Linked DNA regions of Homo sapiens: all the other regions are reported to be linked to region 3. The links are microRNA targets in miRTarBase. Many come from high-throughput screens and were not tested one by one. Region 3 holds a microRNA gene; each other region holds the end of a gene's coding sequence.
Evidence for each region. The annotated mature microRNA hsa-miR-1200 reads CUCCUGAGCCAUUCUGAGCCUC and lies in region 3 at 1,314-1,335, opposite strand. An mRNA with a match to its seed (bases 2 to 7 or 8) in the 3' UTR can be bound and repressed. Matches are read on the target gene's strand: a 7mer-m8 pairs with bases 2 to 8, a 7mer-A1 pairs with bases 2 to 7 and ends in A, and an 8mer does both.

Region 1: the mRNA of VAMP4 is a reported target of hsa-miR-1200. Seed matches in the 3' UTR shown: 7mer-A1 at 3,120-3,126, 7mer-A1 at 2,475-2,481 and 7mer-A1 at 1,667-1,673.
Region 2: miRTarBase lists PIGO as a target of hsa-miR-1200. The part of its 3' UTR that is shown has no 7-base or 8-base seed match.
Region 4: miRTarBase lists OTOG as a target of hsa-miR-1200. The part of its 3' UTR that is shown has no 7-base or 8-base seed match.

Annotation. Positions count from the first base shown.
Region 1 is chr1:171,701,004-171,705,003 of GRCh38, forward strand. VAMP4 (vesicle associated membrane protein 4) reads right to left here. Exons shown (of 8, transcript NM_003762.5): 8 at 1-3,531. The coding sequence ends at 3,503. Among named protein-coding and RNA genes, the nearest start is that of VAMP4, 39 kb to the right of the region's middle.
Region 2 is chr9:35,085,800-35,089,799 of GRCh38, reverse strand. It overlaps PIGO (phosphatidylinositol glycan anchor biosynthesis class O), which reads left to right. Exons shown (of 11, transcript NM_032634.4): 10 at 350-420; 11 at 579-1,112. The coding sequence ends at 708. Among named protein-coding and RNA genes, the nearest start is that of FANCG, 7.9 kb to the right of the region's middle.
Region 3 is chr7:36,918,090-36,922,238 of GRCh38, forward strand. MIR1200 (microRNA 1200) reads right to left here and starts at 1,343; the gene lies at 1,268-1,343. All of the region lies in intron 16 of ELMO1 (engulfment and cell motility 1), which reads right to left.
Region 4 is chr11:17,645,716-17,649,715 of GRCh38, forward strand. It overlaps OTOG (otogelin), which reads left to right. Exons shown (of 56, transcript NM_001292063.2): 56 at 29-329. The coding sequence ends at 229. Among named protein-coding and RNA genes, the nearest start is that of LINC02729, 49 kb to the right of the region's middle. RefSeq lists enhancers at 1-34, 35-535.

The sequences.
Region 1 (4,000 bases), not on the chromosome of region 3:
TATCTCAAAGTATTAAAGAGGATCTAAACCCTACATCAATCTAAAGCATTTAGACAAATGCATTTTTAGACAAAAGCATTTAGACAAATTTCATTTGTCTACAACATGGAAAAAACAAGTTAAGAAGTAGAGCACCTTTCAGCCCTTACTACATTCTAAAACAAACTTGTAAATGCTTTCAAACTGACTTATGCTCTTACTCTCAACTCACAGAAAAATGGAGTCCAATCACATTTCCATGTGAAAACACAAAATTAGGTTAACAGAACAGTCATCCTTGACATAGTAATACTCTGACAATACAATTAAGGGGACATCTTCTAATGGCATTTGTTCTTAACATGGAAAAACAATTTCTTGCATATTTTCTAATCATAGTGTATATACAGATGTAAATACAGAGTCAATGTGTGCAATGATGCTGACAAGGCATCAAGCATGTTTTAGAGTATACCGGCAATGAGAGATTTCAATTACTTTATATTCCTGCCTTCTCAGTCTGTACACATATTATCATTTACAGGATAGTCACATACTATACAGAATTGAAAGATGCCAATTTTTGCTATCAAAAGTGCTGAAGTTATAATTTCCTAATACAGACTATTGAAATGCACAGAAAGACTACAATAGGCAATCTATAGCAGGGCTAACAAAGTATTTCTATATCTCATGTCTATTAATTACCCTTCCTCCATCTTATATAATATTCCATCTTCAGTAATGAACTTTTATCTAATTAAGAAATCCCCCAGTTTATAAAATCTGAGGGCAATTTCCAGTGAACTTTGTCAGGATAGAGGAACCAAATGACCACAGGTATTACTGAGTTATAATAAGAAGGAGTAACCAATTAATCAGTATTATAACAACAAAATTGCTGCAAGGCAATAGGCTTCTGTAATTAAACATAAATCACAAAGGTATGGATTCAGGCATCAAAATAGTGACGTGATTTCACTGAGTATCAACTAGTATTTGCAAAGCTACTTGAATTTTTCTGTTGATCTTCACTTGTTGTTAAATAATGATAGTTTTGATGGTGGTAAAACTTCATTTTTCAAGTGCAGGATGATCTGAGCTGAATGAGAAAAAAAGTAATTAAGGGAGGGAATAAAGGTAGGCCTGGCATCAGTTTGAACAATATATTTTTTTCTTCTGTTTTTGATCGTAAGAGGGCTTATATCTCCAAGGTTACCACAATAAAGTCATAACCATGCCAGCCATTTTAAGGATTTCAGGATTAATCAAGACCAAGAAAGATGAAATGATGAATTACAAACCAAGCCATCACTACTACAAAGTTCCATGAGTGATAATTCTGTTACCCATATCCCAGGCAGCAATATGTTTAAATTACAAAGACAGTGACATATATATTGTCAAAAAATTTTACTGTTACTTATTATTTAAATTTAAAAATTTTATAATTTTACATTTTGTAATTATTTATTTAAAAGTGGCATATTTTATTAAAAGGAACACTGGAAATATGGATACTTTTTGAGAAGTAATCTTCATCTTCACTTGTAGATATTATGGAGAAACCAGATTTCTACATCAACTAATGGAAAATTAACCACTTATGAGCCTAGTTCCAATTCAAATAAAGGACATACATACAAATGTTAGGACTGATTCTGTCCATTCAGTTAAAATATTTCCATTCCTGAATTATTAGCTACTGAAATTCTAAAAATGCTCATTTTTCTGGGTATCTTAACTTAAAAGATTTATTAGCTGTTCAGATGCTGTTTATATTAATTGACATTTACAAAGAGCATAGAGACCAAAGACAATATACACTATAGTATGTAAGACCTTTATCTCCTTCTAAATGCTCTAAGCAAACTATAAAATTTAGTAATTCTATTTAGATCTTCTTAGATAACTTGCAGGTGTCTTGAGTGTCTCAGTCTGCTTTCTCTCTTCAAATTTTTTCCATTCTAAACAGCATTTTTTGCCTCCTAGTAATAATCCTGTAGAATTTTAAAAACAGACAAAAAAACACCAAACCCAGATTCTATGCTTTATTCATTTTGCATTAAGATGACCAAAGAAATAAAACCTAAATAAAATAAACATAAAATCATTTTTCCCTATTTAAATACTGATAATTTCTATTAACCCTATTTTTAATTTAGGGAGTTTTATATTCATATTGTCAAGATATCCAGTGCACAAGTTTCTGCAGAATCACTAATTTTATTATAAAGCTTCCTCTCCCCACACCTTAGGGGACAATGTATTTTCACTCTGACTTGTTTAAAAGACACAAGGAGGTTGGCATATTTTAAAGTTAACACATTTTTTCATTATAAAAACAGGCTTAGGTTAATGGTCACTCTCTAGCATTTGGTTACCGACTGACTGATTATCATATGTGTGCGTGTGTGTGTGTGTGTGTGTGTGTGTTTGTGTGTATATATATATATATATATATATATATATATATATATATATATACACATAGGTTCCTGACTTTCTACTACTCATTACTGTTGGCTGATGCAAAATTTGATTGTGCAACATACATCTCCTCAAGGATGAACAGGAAATGCAAAGATATAAAATTCAAAGTATTAATAGATGGTTTTGCTACTTTTTGTACTTTTGGTAAATGAGATAGTTGGAAGTTAGAGGCTATTAACTAAAATAAAATTAAGGAGTAAGTAAGTTACCTGTAAATTTCATTTACTCACATTAGGACTGACTGGTCTCTCTTTATTGGAGTTTAACAGAAAACAGACTGGACCATGACTGGCAGCTATATATTGGTCATTTTCAAATACTCCAATGACACTCTTCAATAACTTTATTATCTCCAGTTTTATGATGCCATACCATGTTTTTTCACACTGTTTAAAAATTTCCATTTCCATAATCCAATGCCAAAAAAATTACTACACATTCTCTTACACAGTCAAAAATATATTTACTGGAATGTTTTTAGTTATACCTGAGGGCAACAACATTTACAACATTTAGCTTTTGTTACACCTATAAATGTGGAAATTGCTTGCAAAACAACTGTAATATGAAAGGAACTATATTTCTGCAAATATTGACAGAATGGTTATGCATCTCTTTCAGCATATAATTTGGTACTCTACACAGGCTTCCTGACCCCCAGCATGACCCGCTCCCTAATGCAATAATGCAAGTCCTTATGCCATTAAAATATTAATATGAAATATTATAATCAGTGTTTATATACACAAATAATGAACTGGCAAGTATCTAGTTTCAAATTAGATCCTTGAAATATGGAAAAATAGAGGCTAGTTCTCTTTGCCTTAAACATAATTATTAAAAGAACATTTTGTTAGAAAGGGAGAAGATAATTGGACATTCTCAACGTTCCAATTTGAAGTGATACTTGCCTCTTAGTTTCTTGAAAAAGAAGTTTTGAAAGTTATATACACATAGGTTTCATTTAAATTATGCAGCAATCTTTTATTACTGTCCCAGATCTTGTTTAATGAAGATCTCTGTCATCAAATCAAGTACGGTATTTCATGACTATAAGAACTGTAAGAGAAAACATGAAAAAAGCAATATATCAACATCAGATATATATGCTATGTTTGAAGCAATATTCCTAAATGTAGTTGTGTCTACTTTTAGAAATGGGTAATGAGGATTGACTGAACTTTTATCTGAGGTAATAAATAATCAATGGGAAAGGAGAAGCAAAAAATATCATAAAACAACCTAAATGTCTAACATTGGCATCTTAAATAAATAATGGCATAGCCATAGCTTGTATCTGCTGTTAAAATATTACTAAAAATTTTGATAACCTGGGATAATAGTCACAATATATTTATTAGAAAGTACATATAATATAGTCTTAGTTTTTTAAAAAACATGCTTGTATATTAATAGGAAAAGAGAAGTATATATAATAGTTATATTAGTAGCTATCTCTACTAATTGTAAGATTATAGTTGAATTTTTCTTCTTTTTGTTATTAATATTTCACATTTTCCAATTGCTC
Region 2 (4,000 bases), not on the chromosome of region 3:
AAAACTGAGGTGATAGCCAGGATTTTCTTCCCAAACTGTGGTCATGGATCCTCTTCCTTTCCTCCAGAGGCAGATGTGGCACTGATATCTTCCTCCATCCTGGGGGCACAGCCTGAGTGTTAGCATTGCAGATGGATACTGACTTGCCCAAAGTCACATAGTGAGTCAGTGCTTGGGGCAGGGCAGGAAGTAGGTCTCCTAACTCCTAGCCCAGGACATGCAATATTTTTTCCACTGACATGCACTATTCTCCTGCTTCCATTTTTTACAGGGGCCTATAGAAACTCTCCTTTTGCTCCGCTTCCTCCTCTCCTTCACAAGTAACGTGGCCCCTCCTCTCCTCCTCTAGATTCTGGCCTGTGCCTTGGCAGCCTCCATCCTTCGCAGGCATCTCATGGTCTGGAAAGTGTTTGCCCCTAAGTGAGTAGATTTGCTTGAGAAGTAGAGGTGGTGGGGAGGGAGAAACTTGGAACAAAGTATGAAGATCCTAAACATCCAGGATGGCCAAGGTTTTGCCTCTACAGGGAAAAGGCAGTAGACCTACTCTGTTGCCTGAGATTCTCCGCCTTTCTTTGCAGGTTCATATTTGAGGCTGTGGGCTTCATTGTGAGCAGCGTGGGACTTCTCCTGGGCATAGCTTTGGTGATGAGAGTGGATGGTGCTGTGAGCTCCTGGTTCAGGCAGCTATTTCTGGCCCAGCAGAGGTAGCCTAGTCTGTGATTACTGGCACTTGGCTACAGAGAGTGCTTGAGAACAGTGTAGCCTGGCCTGTACAGGTACTGGATGATCTGCAAGACAGGCTCAGCCATACTCTTACTATCATGCAGCCAGGGGCCGCTGACATCTAGGACTTCATTATTCTATAATTCAGGACCACAGTGGAGTATGATCCCTAACTCCTGATTTGGATGCATCTGAGGGACAAGGGGGGCGGTCTCCGAAGTGGAATAAAATAGGCCGGGCGTGGTGACTTGCACCTATAATCCCAGCACTTTGGGAGGCAGAGGTGGGAGGATTGCTTGGTCCCAGGAGTTCAAGACCAGCCTGTGGAACATAACAAGACCCCGTCTCTACTATTTAAAAAAAAGTGTAATAAAATGATAATATAATTATGTGTGTCTGAGATGTGGGGGAGCCCCACTGTTCTATAGGGGTTGTGAGGAGGATCAGTCTCTCCTGCCACCAGGCACAGATGAGATCAGTCATCTTAGGAAAGCCTGGCTGCACCTGAGAACCTTTATGAAGTGGTTGGAGTTGTCTGAATTCACTGCCTCCACCTCTTCCCAAATCAATCCTATTATCCCACCGCTATTTTCCTTTGCCATGCAACACATTTTGTTAAGTTCCTGTTCTTTGTCTGATAAAGAGAGAAGACTGAGAAGACAAGCCCAGGCATCATGCAGCACCGACTTTAACTGTCTGAAGCCCCAAATAGTGCTATGCCCCCGCTCCACTGGGCCTTTTCACTATAGAACACCCTTTGCCCTTCCCTTCTGTGGAAGCCTCCCTTGTTTCCCAACCTGTGCCACTCTTTATCAGATCTACATGCCCATCTTATGTAGCATTCCACCTTGTCCCATTCATTATTCCTGACTTGAAGCCAAAATTGTGTGAATCCACTGGTTCTTTTCTCATGTGTATGTTTTGTGCCCTCTGTTCACCCCAGCACTCCTGTCATGTTTGAAATGCTGGCATGAAATCCTCCTAGAGATGTCCATCAAAAGAGTTGGGAAGAGGCCCTGGAGAGAAGCATCAGGACTGGGATTTGAGGTTTGACAGTACCTAGAACAAGAGGAGCTGATACCACTGAAAAACAGAACAGATGTTAAAACCATGGGATAGCACCTACTTTTAGCTGGCATAAAGTAGAGAAGCTGAGTAGTAGTGGTTGTGAAGTATAAACGTTCACTGCTGTGGTAGGTAGCTAAGGGAAGAATTGAAATTATTTTTATTGTTACTATCATTTTAAAGACATATTTTTGCTCTATTGTCCAGGCTGGAGGGCAGTGGTGCAATCATAGCTCCCTGTAGTTTCAAACTCCTGGGCTCAAGTGATCCATCTCAGCCTCCTCAGTATCTGGGACCATGCCTGGCTAATTTTTAAATTTCTGTACAGACAGAGTCTTGCTACATTGCCCAGGCTGTTCGTGAACTCCTGGCCTCAAGCGATCCTTCCACCTTGGCCTCTCAAAGCACTAGGATTACAGGTGTGAGCCACAGCACCTGGCTAAGTTCAGATTATTAATGGCCAGTGGTCCCTAGTGTTACAGATGCCAAATAGTAAGATGATGAAAAGTATGGTTCAGCTGGGTGTGGTGCCTCATGCCTGTAATCTCAGCACTTTGGGGAGCCAAGGCGGGTGGATCACCTGAGGTCAGGAGTTTGAGACCAGCCTGGCCAACATGGCAAAACCCCATCTCTACTAAAAATACAAAAATTAGCCAGGTGTGGTGGTGTGCACCTGTAATTCCGGCTACTCAGGAGGCTGAGGCAGGAGAATCGCTTGAACCTGGGAGGCAGAGGTTACAGTGAGCCAAGATCACGCTACTGCACTCCAGCCTGGGAGACAGAGCCAGACTCTCTCTCAAAAAAAAAAAAAAAAAAAAAGGGATAGGTTGTTAACCATGGTAGAAAGAGGTTTAATAATGCAAGGGGGTGAAGTTGGCCCCAGCTGGCCTGTAAGATGAATTAGAAAAACGCTTCTCCCCAAGTCTGGTGGACACAACTCCCAAGCATAGTTCGGTGAGCAAATGGTGTCTTTTTGAGAAAGGGGAAAAAAACCAAAACAAAAACCTTTCCTCCATCCCTAGCACCCATGGAAGGATTTTAGGCCCTAGTTCCTCCACTTCTCAGCCAGGTACCCTGCACTTTTTGCAGTAGCCTCCTTGCCTGGAGCCTAAGGCTAATTTGCTGATCTGCCAACCACTGTCTATTCTTTCTCCTGGTGTATCTATAAGATTCTATTAGATAAAGACATTAGTACATTGATTTACGCTATTAAAAATTATTTCTAGCCAGGCACTGTGGCATGTCCCTATAGTCCCAGCTACTTGGGAGGCAGAGGTGGGAGGATCACTTGAGGATAGCAAGACTCCGTCTCTACAAAAATAAAAAAATTAGCCAGGCATGGTCCCAGCTATGTAGAGGCTGAGGTGGATCACTTGAGCCCAGGAGTTAGAGGCTGTAGTGCACAATGAATGCACCTGTGAATAGCCACTGCACTCCAGCCTGGGCAACATAGATCCTCTCTCTTTTAAAAAGAAAAATTATCTTATCCCTCCCTTTTCCTTGAAATCAGAGTCCATTCCACACTAACTCAATGATTCTTTTTTTTTTTCCTTTAATTTTTTGTAGAGGTGGGGGTCTTGCTGTCTTGCCTAGGCTGGTCTTGAACTCCTGGCCTCAAGCCATCCTCCTGCCTCGACCTCCTCAAGTGTTGGGATTGCAGGTGTGAGCCATTGCACCCAGCCCTGATTCTTTTTTAAAAAAGCTTTATTGAAATGCAATTTACCATAAAATTTACCCATGTAAGGTGTAAGATTTAATGGTTTTTGTGTATTTACAGAATTGTACAACCATCACCAGAATCAATTTTAGAACATTTTCACCAACCCCAAAAGAAAATCTACTGTTTAGATATCACCCTCCAATCCTCCCCAACCCCTGGCTAGCACTAATCTGCTGTTTCTCTATATATTTGCCCATTTTGGATATTTCACAGAAATGGGATCATAATAATATGTGGTCTTTTGTGACTGGCATCTTCCACTTAGTATAATGTTTTCCGGTTTCATCTATATAGCAGCACACAGCAGTACTTCATTCTTTTTCTTTTTTAAAATTGAAGTAAAATTCATATAAAATTCACCATTTTAAAGTGTATAATTTAGTGGCCGTTAGTACATTCACAACGTTGTACAATTATCATCATTATCAATTCCAGAATGTTTTCATTACCCCAAAAAGAAACCCTGTACCCTTAAGCAGTCATTCCTTCTCT
Region 3 (4,149 bases):
GAGGAGGGAAGGAAATGGGTGTAGGGAATGGGGGGTGAAGAGGAACAATAACAAAATAAGAGGAGGGTCTTGCATGGCCTTAGGGTGACAATAAGCTATGAACTGAGCAGTATGCATAACTCAACTCCATATCTGAGGGCCAATTAATTCTTTAAACATTGTTGAGTTCTTGTACAGATTAAACCAGATCTATAAGTCAAACTTCTGGCAATGTAGGAGGTGCTCAACACCTATTTGCTCCCCCTGTGGCTCTCAGAAAATGTAAAAGGGATGGGGTTTTCTTTTGCTTCTCTAATAATTTTATAAGTGAAAATATGAGTCTCAAGAGAATGAGGTAAGAAGAGTAGCACTCAGATATGAGTGTAGAAGGCTAGTTCTCCACCCTGGGTGCATATCACAGTCACCCAGGGGATTCACAGAAAATTCAGATAATCAGGCCCAATCCACTCGTTCCCTCCCCCAGTGACAATGTGTATCATCATCTCTAAGGGCAGGAGGAATAGGGGCCAGGGCCAGGGTCCACAGTACATTTTGAAAAGCATTAGCCTTGTGCTGGAGGGTCTGTCTGTCCGCTGTGCTCTCAGCCACTCATGTTCTTTGGATTGTTGCTTTTGAAACTTTCAAGGGCTTTTGCTAAATAAAGCGTCACCAAACTGCTCAAAAAGAAATACATTTCAAAATATATGATTAGTGTATACAGTATGGTACCCCATCTGCTCTTCCAAAATACTTGAGTTTTAGAAAATAATGTGTAGACAGGTCTATAAATTGCTACCTCCCACAAAACAAAGTAGACTCACTTTAAGGGGTAAGGAAAAATATTTTTTTTCTTTTGGTTTACCCATAGCAAGAGAGTTAATCTATAAGAGCAAGCAAGCATGCCTTCATTCATTCATTCATTCATTCAGTCAGTCAGTCAGTCAGTTGGCACTTGGGCTAAAATAAAGTACTTTATTCTAGGGATGGTTCAGCTAACTTATAGGAATTTAGCATCCATAATAAATAGAACTTGCACAAACGTAGCAACTTTTCTTCTCACAGCTCAATATTCAAGCAAGTAAATATGCACCTTGGGTTGCAAGATCCTAGAAGGCAGAGAATGTAACTCTGTTGAATGTCACTATGTGCTCCATGTTATCCAGCATTTGGTTAATAGTGACTAGGATAATCGTTCATGTCTATTACATTTCCCACAGCATATAGCATCGTGTGAGTCTCAGCCTTTTCTAACACTGCTCAGATGCTGGCTGAAGACTTTGGGACTTCAGGCTATCCCTGACAAATTCCTGAACCAATCTCTCTGGCAAGTGATTGAGGCTCAGAATGGCTCAGGAGAAGTAGCATAGTAAACTAGGAAGAATGTGGGCTTTGGGGTCACAGAACTCTGGATTTGAAACCTGGTTCTCTCACTTATGGGCTAAGTCTCTTCATCTGTAAAATGGGATAATGGCATCAACCTTGCTGGGTTGCTATGATAATTAGATAATGTACACTCAGTGCCTAGAACAGAGTAGGCCTGGCAACTGTGGAAGGGAGGCTGCTGCCAATCAAAGTGTGTTGCTGCACACTCAGTATCAAGTATCCTAAAAGAAGCTCTGATTCCCCATTGCTCATGAAACTCTAGTTTGTATTTCCAAGCTCTGTGATCGATGCTGGGCTCACGGGGAAGAGTTTCTGCAATCCAAAGCTCCCATCAGAATGGGAGCCCTTCCTGAACCCTATTGCTAATGTGACTGCAAATAAAACAACCTGTCTAATCATTTCCATCTCCCTTCCTCTGATTCATTTAAGGAACGAATCAATGCCTTAATTATGTGAACCATTCAGAACTATAATGTGTCACGACTGGGAACGCCCTATGAGATGCCAAAAGCCCCACCCCTTTTGACATCAACAGTGGCCTGGATCAGGGATGCTTTGGTTCTTTCCTTTGGGCACTCTACTCTGGAATGATGTCCAATCACTTTCTTCTGCAAGGGCCAACCTCACACTTTATCCCTTCAGCCTGGCCACTAAGACCCAGCTCTTGCCTCTTCTACTCTGGCTAATATGCCCCTTGGCCAGGCCACCACACAGTCAACTACAGGGCTTATGAACTACCTGAAAAATATTTGCTGAATAGAAGTCAATGAGTATGTGAAAATGAATGAATGAGTGAATGAAATAAGTTGCTTCTCATCTCTGAATGAGATTTGGATTAATTGTTTCATTGGACTGTTGCCCCATGCAAGCAACTATCATCTGGCAGTGCCTCTGGAGGAAGAGGCTGACCTCATATAGCTCTAAATATGAAGTCCAAACATATAGTTTATGTTTCCTAATTCAGCTGATTTGTGGATATTAAAAACAACTGCCACAATGTCCAAAACTAGATGGTTCTTTAAAGTTAATCACAACATGGTTTTTGGTTTATATTCTAAAACATAATCTCTCACCCAATACATTAATTTACATATCCACATAATGAAATTCATGCATATATATGTGCACATATTTTAATGAATCTAAATAGATCACTATAGTTTTATGCATGAAAGGCTTTTAAAAAAATCTGGCATAAAACATAGCCATATTAAATCCCTCTCCAACATGGTAATTTAAGAACAGAATTTTCCATGTTGTTTTCTACTGCTGATTTCATTTTCTACTGTTAGACTGACCACCTTGTGTCTCCTGAAATGCCGTCTTGCTTGAAAAGTCCTTCTTAACTCTCCCACAAGTCACTCTCTTCTCTATGAACCCCAAATCCTTTTTATAGGTCTCCATGAGCAGTGTCAAGGTCTTCATCTATGGTCTGAATGTTTGTGTCTCCCCACCAAATTCATATGCTGAAATATAGTCCCCAGTGCAATAAAATATTAAGAGGTGGAGCCTTTGAAGGGAGAGGATTAGGTCATGAAGATTCTGCTGTAATGAATAGGGTTACTGAAGTTATAAAAGAGGTCCAAGGGAGCTTATTAGTCCCTTCCACCATGTGAGGACGCAAGAAGGCATCATCTATGGAGCAGGAAGTGAGCCTTTGCCAGGCACCACATTTGCTGGTGCCTTGATTTTGGACTTCCCAGCCTCCAGAACTGTGAGCAACAAATTTTTGTTATTTACAAATTACCCCGTCTAAGGTACGCTGTGACAGTAGCCTGAATGGACCAACACAATGTCTTTGAGAAGCAGTGTGGCCCTGTGATCAAGAGCGGGCAGGCCCACTGGACCAAATCTTCTGCCTTTGGAACCTGGCTCTGCCACTTACTAGCTAGCTGATACAGGCAAGTTATTAAACCTCTCTTGGCCTTAGTTGCTTCAACTGTAAGATGAGGACAAAAACAGTATCTAAAGTCTTGTGAAAATTATGACACCCATGAGCAGACATTTATGTCCTGGCACCAGAAACACAGCAGCAAACACAATGACAACTCTTATTATGTTGATGTTATTATTATTGCTATTATTATGACTACTACTCCTTTCTCACCTAGTTTGTGATTTCCTTGACAGGTGGAAGAGGTTCTCTTTCTTGCACCTGGCTCAAGAGTCAAGTAAAATTGTGGTTATACTTGTAGGCATTCAATAACTATAATGCATTCTCTAGAACTCCTCGTTTTCCGCACAGAAAAGCTCCCAAAATGCTCTTCAGTGAAGAAAGTGCTAGGATAGGATTCCTTGCACAAACCTCTCAATTATGGCAGTCTTTTATTTTTCAAGGCTGTATATCTCCTGTGAAAGTTCTCTGAGGAAGGATCTCACCTGGGGCATTTGCTGGGCTTTAGAGATTGGACAGGGCCCAGGTAAAGTCAAATAATACCTAAGAGTGGTAAGACCCCGCTGCGTATGCCTGTGTGGCATTGTCAGATCTCTTTTATTTTCTTGTGGAGTTTTCCCTATTCCCCATCAAACTCTTGAAATTCTAAATATTTGCTCCTTGCTAATTTTGTTTTTTTCTAGTCCCTTATGGAAATGAGGCAAATTTGGGGGAAACAAAGTATGGTATCTGTTTGCAGTAAACCAGTTTAAAGTTCTAATAAAATCAATAGGTGGTCAGGTGTCTAGTTGTGCAACTGAAGTAATTTAACATAAAGGAGAGGAAGCGGATTGAATGACGCTATTTTTGAAAGCAAACCCACAGATTCATTAGCTCTTTTACTAAGACTATAT
Region 4 (4,000 bases), not on the chromosome of region 3:
GACTGCCTCACTGGCCTGCCCGTTCCAGGTGAACCTAGTGTCCTGCGATGGGAGGTGCCCATCCGCCAGCATCTACAACTACAACATCAACACCTATGCCCGATTCTGCAAGTGCTGCCGTGAGGTGGGCCTGCAGCGGCGCTCTGTGCAGCTCTTCTGTGCCACCAATGCCACCTGGGTGCCCTATACAGTGCAGGAGCCCACCGACTGTGCCTGCCAGTGGTCCTGAGGCCTGGGGGCCCGGGCTAGCTGGACCACCTCTGCCAGCCCCACTTTCTGTTTCCAGCTGGCCCAATGTGAATGGGGGTATTAAAGGTGGTAGAAATCTGGCACGTGTTGAGCATGGAATGGTGGGAAGAGGTCACAGGAGTAACCAGAAAGGGTCACCCCTGCCCATCCTGGCTCCCTTTCTGGGCTCCCCATTTTCCGCACATGGGAAAGTGCCACAGTTGAGGGCTCAGGGAGCTCACCTCTGTCCCTGGTTTGAGATGGAAAATGGGCTTTAGGTCCAGGGGCAGCAGCCTCTGAACCTCTGTGACCCTGGCCACAGCTCTTGGTGGAGGGGGTGAGAGCTGTGGGAAGATGGGAAGGTGCATGGTGCTTACATGGGAACCACAGCTGGACCCAAGACCAAGCACAGGGGCAGGATGCAGTGGCCCATTCTCTTGGCCTTTTTGACTACACAAGAAACCAGACACAGTAAAAGGAAAGAGGGCTATACCTGCAACACTCAGGCCTGCAGATGGCTGCCCAGAAGGAGTTCCCAAAGACAAAGATGGTGGATTCTAGGGCCCAGGTTGTCTCACCAAGATCTGTGAAATCAGAGTGAGCTCAGTGACCTTCGCATCTCCTGTAGTCCAAAGAAAGGTGCCTGGTGTCCTGGTATTGATATGGTAATTCAGGAAAGGATTTGGAAGACCTAAGCCTGTACCCTTACCCCAAGGCAACCTTCCCAGCAGGCAGGCCGGCCTTGTGAGGCGGTGCTGGGGGAGTGAAACCCTCAGTGAGGGCCCAGCACTACTTATCTAGGATGCTGGTTGACAGCCCATGCCTTCAAGGCCCTAGGTTGCTGAGGGGGTACCTTCAGCCTGCAAATGCAGCTCCAGGCTTTGCAGTGTGCCTTTTCTCCAAGGCCATGACAGAGTCGGGCTCAGAGGAGCCTGATTATGGGTTGTGTGGCTCAGCCAGTGCCAGTCTCTGTGCTCCATGGGACTGTTTAGCAAGAGAGTGTCTGTTGGTGTCAGTGGAAAACACAGCCCCAGCCTCCCTGAGCACTTGTGAGATCCTTGTCACTGAACCAGAGCGTCCCCTAAAGCCAGGGCCAGCGTCCCCTTCCACACCCCACTCTGCAAGTCTCCCACCCCCTGTGCCACTTTGTGCCACGTGGAACCGAAGGGCATGAACATAAGGTTGTGCAGGCCCCAGCACTGCCCTGTGTGTCTGAAGATGTGGCTGGATGCCCCTTGAGGTGAGGAGGCTGTGCCAAGATGGACCCTGCTGTTTCCAAGCCTCTTTGTGCCCATGTTTGTGTTCTGTTTATTCATCAATAAACCACAGGATGACTTCAGGCCTCTGAGCATCTCTGAGGGAGCCAGGTTTACTTCGAACTTGAAGGAGTGTCCACTGTGAAGAGAAGACTCTATTTTGTGGCCCTGAACATCAGCACTGCTTCTGCCCCATCCGTCCCAGCACTATGCCCCACTCACAGCAGAACCATTGGTGGGTGTCTGCTGGTTGGAATTGAATGGACTGGAGACTGGCTTCTAGAGGAAGGGGATGAGGAGAAGGAAGAGGACATTGGGAGCTGGGGAGCTGGCACCCAGGAGAGGGACTGAGGAGTGATCCTGGTTCTGTGGGCCCAGAGACAGACGCTTCTTACAGGAGATGTGGGTGGGGCAGACCCAGAGAGTAGGTTTCATATTGGCCTCTTAACATTTCTGTATTTCTTTCCTTGTTGTTCTCCCAATGAGCTCAGTATGTTTTTGCAGCCATGTCAGCTGTGGTAGGATTAAGGAGCACCCAGGGACAGGCTCTCAGTGACACTTCACCTGCGAAGGACTGTTGGTACACCTAAGGAGCAAATGGGAGGGTGCTTTCCTGGGTTGTCCCATGTGGGAAGGAGAAGGAGGGGGGCTAGGAAAGTACCCCTCAGTAATAGGGCAAACTCCTAGAGGAGTCAGTGCTTACAGTGCAAGAGCTTCACCCTGCCTAGAGAGGGTAGAACATCTTTTTTTGAACGAACACTTGGAAGGCTTGGCTTTTATTTCATAAGTAAGCTCTTCTTATGGTGCATCTGTCTGCTAACATGGACCCTGAGTCTTTTCCTAATGAAGCTTTATGGCTTTGTAAGCAGCACATTTCTAAATAATCAATGGCTCAAATAAGAAATCAGAAAGGAAATTGGACAACATTTTGATCTGGGTGATTTTGAAATTATGACACATTAACCTGTGAGATGCAGCTAATGCAGTACTTAGAGAAACATTTATAGTCTTAAATGCATACATCACACTTCTTAATTTCTCATTATTACAGCCAGAGATGGGGTGGGACAAGGCTTCCAAACTTCTCTATCAGGGATGATGATCCATGGCTTGTAGTCAGTTATCTCCTTAGCTATACACACTCCCTAAATCAATAGTTTTCAGAATTTTGAACTCTGATTTCAGCAGAACATGACTTTAAACAGAACATGGCTGTTAAAGTGAACTAGGTTCAAAATCCTGGTTCTATTATATGGCAAGATGTTTTGACTAAGACATAAGGAAGTTTTTATAGCCATTGCTGGCTATATAGTATCCCTGGCTGTTCATTCCTCACCTCATCACCCTTCCCATCTGTTTGTGTCCAGTTACGGGAAAGCAGCTTTTGAACAGGCCACTCCTCATCAGCTGTTGCATAGACAGAGGCAGAGGGCACCAGGTTAAGTCAGCCAGCCTTGGCCTAAATGTCTTTCTGCAGTCTCAATTCGGGAGGGTGGCTCCAGGCTTTCAGACACCTGTTCCCCACATCTGACCCATTGTTGGTGACACAGTTTCAGTAGCCTGGCCCTCCTTGGCTCCAGTTGGCAGCAGTTCTCCAGCCCTCCTGCTGTACTCCCACTGTGTCCTCTCAGATGGCCATAGCTCCTGGTGATCACACCCTACTGTGGGAGTCCCAGCATGCCTGGATGTTCCCCCCGGCCACCTCACCTCCACTCCCGCTCAGACAACCCCCCCGCCTACTCCTACTGGAAGCCAACTTCTCACTCTAAATTTTTGGTCAAAATTCCCAGTTCTATTTTCCTAGATCCCTCCTGAAGATACTGACTTTTTTTTCTTTCAGGGTAAGACAATTTAGTGAAAGATTAATGAGAGGAAAATCTCCAACCCTGTCTTGCAATGTAGGGAAGGCAGGAAACAGTGAAGACTTTGAACCTTAATTAGTGTTGTCCATTGCCCTCCAAAAAGCCAGTGCCAGCAGTGTTAATGCGAGTGTTCATATCAAATAGATACAATTTGTAGATGGTGATTTAAATGTAAAATACACATCTCCTTTAACTAAGTCATCCTATTTCTAGGTAGCTATGGAAGGCTGAATAGTGGTCCTCCAAAGATGTACAAGTCCTAATTTCTGGATCTTGCGAATATTTATATTACATTACATGGTAAAAGGGACTCTGCAGACGTGATTAAGGATCTTGAGATAAGAGGATTATCCTGGGTCATCCAGGTGGGCCCGGTGTAATCACAAGCGTCCTTATATAAGAGAGGCAGCCAGGTCAGAGTCAGAGAGAGGAGACGGGATGACAGAAGCGAGGTTGGAGTGATGTACTTTGAAGTTAGTGTAAGGGGCCACTGGTCAAGAAATCCAGGCAGCCTCTGGAAGCTGGAAAATCAAGGAACTGGATTCTCTCCTAGAGCCCCCAGAAGGAACACAGGCTGGCTGGCCCCTTGATTTTAGCTTAGTGAAGCTGATTTCATACTTCTGACCTCTACAACTGTAAGAGAATAAATGTGTG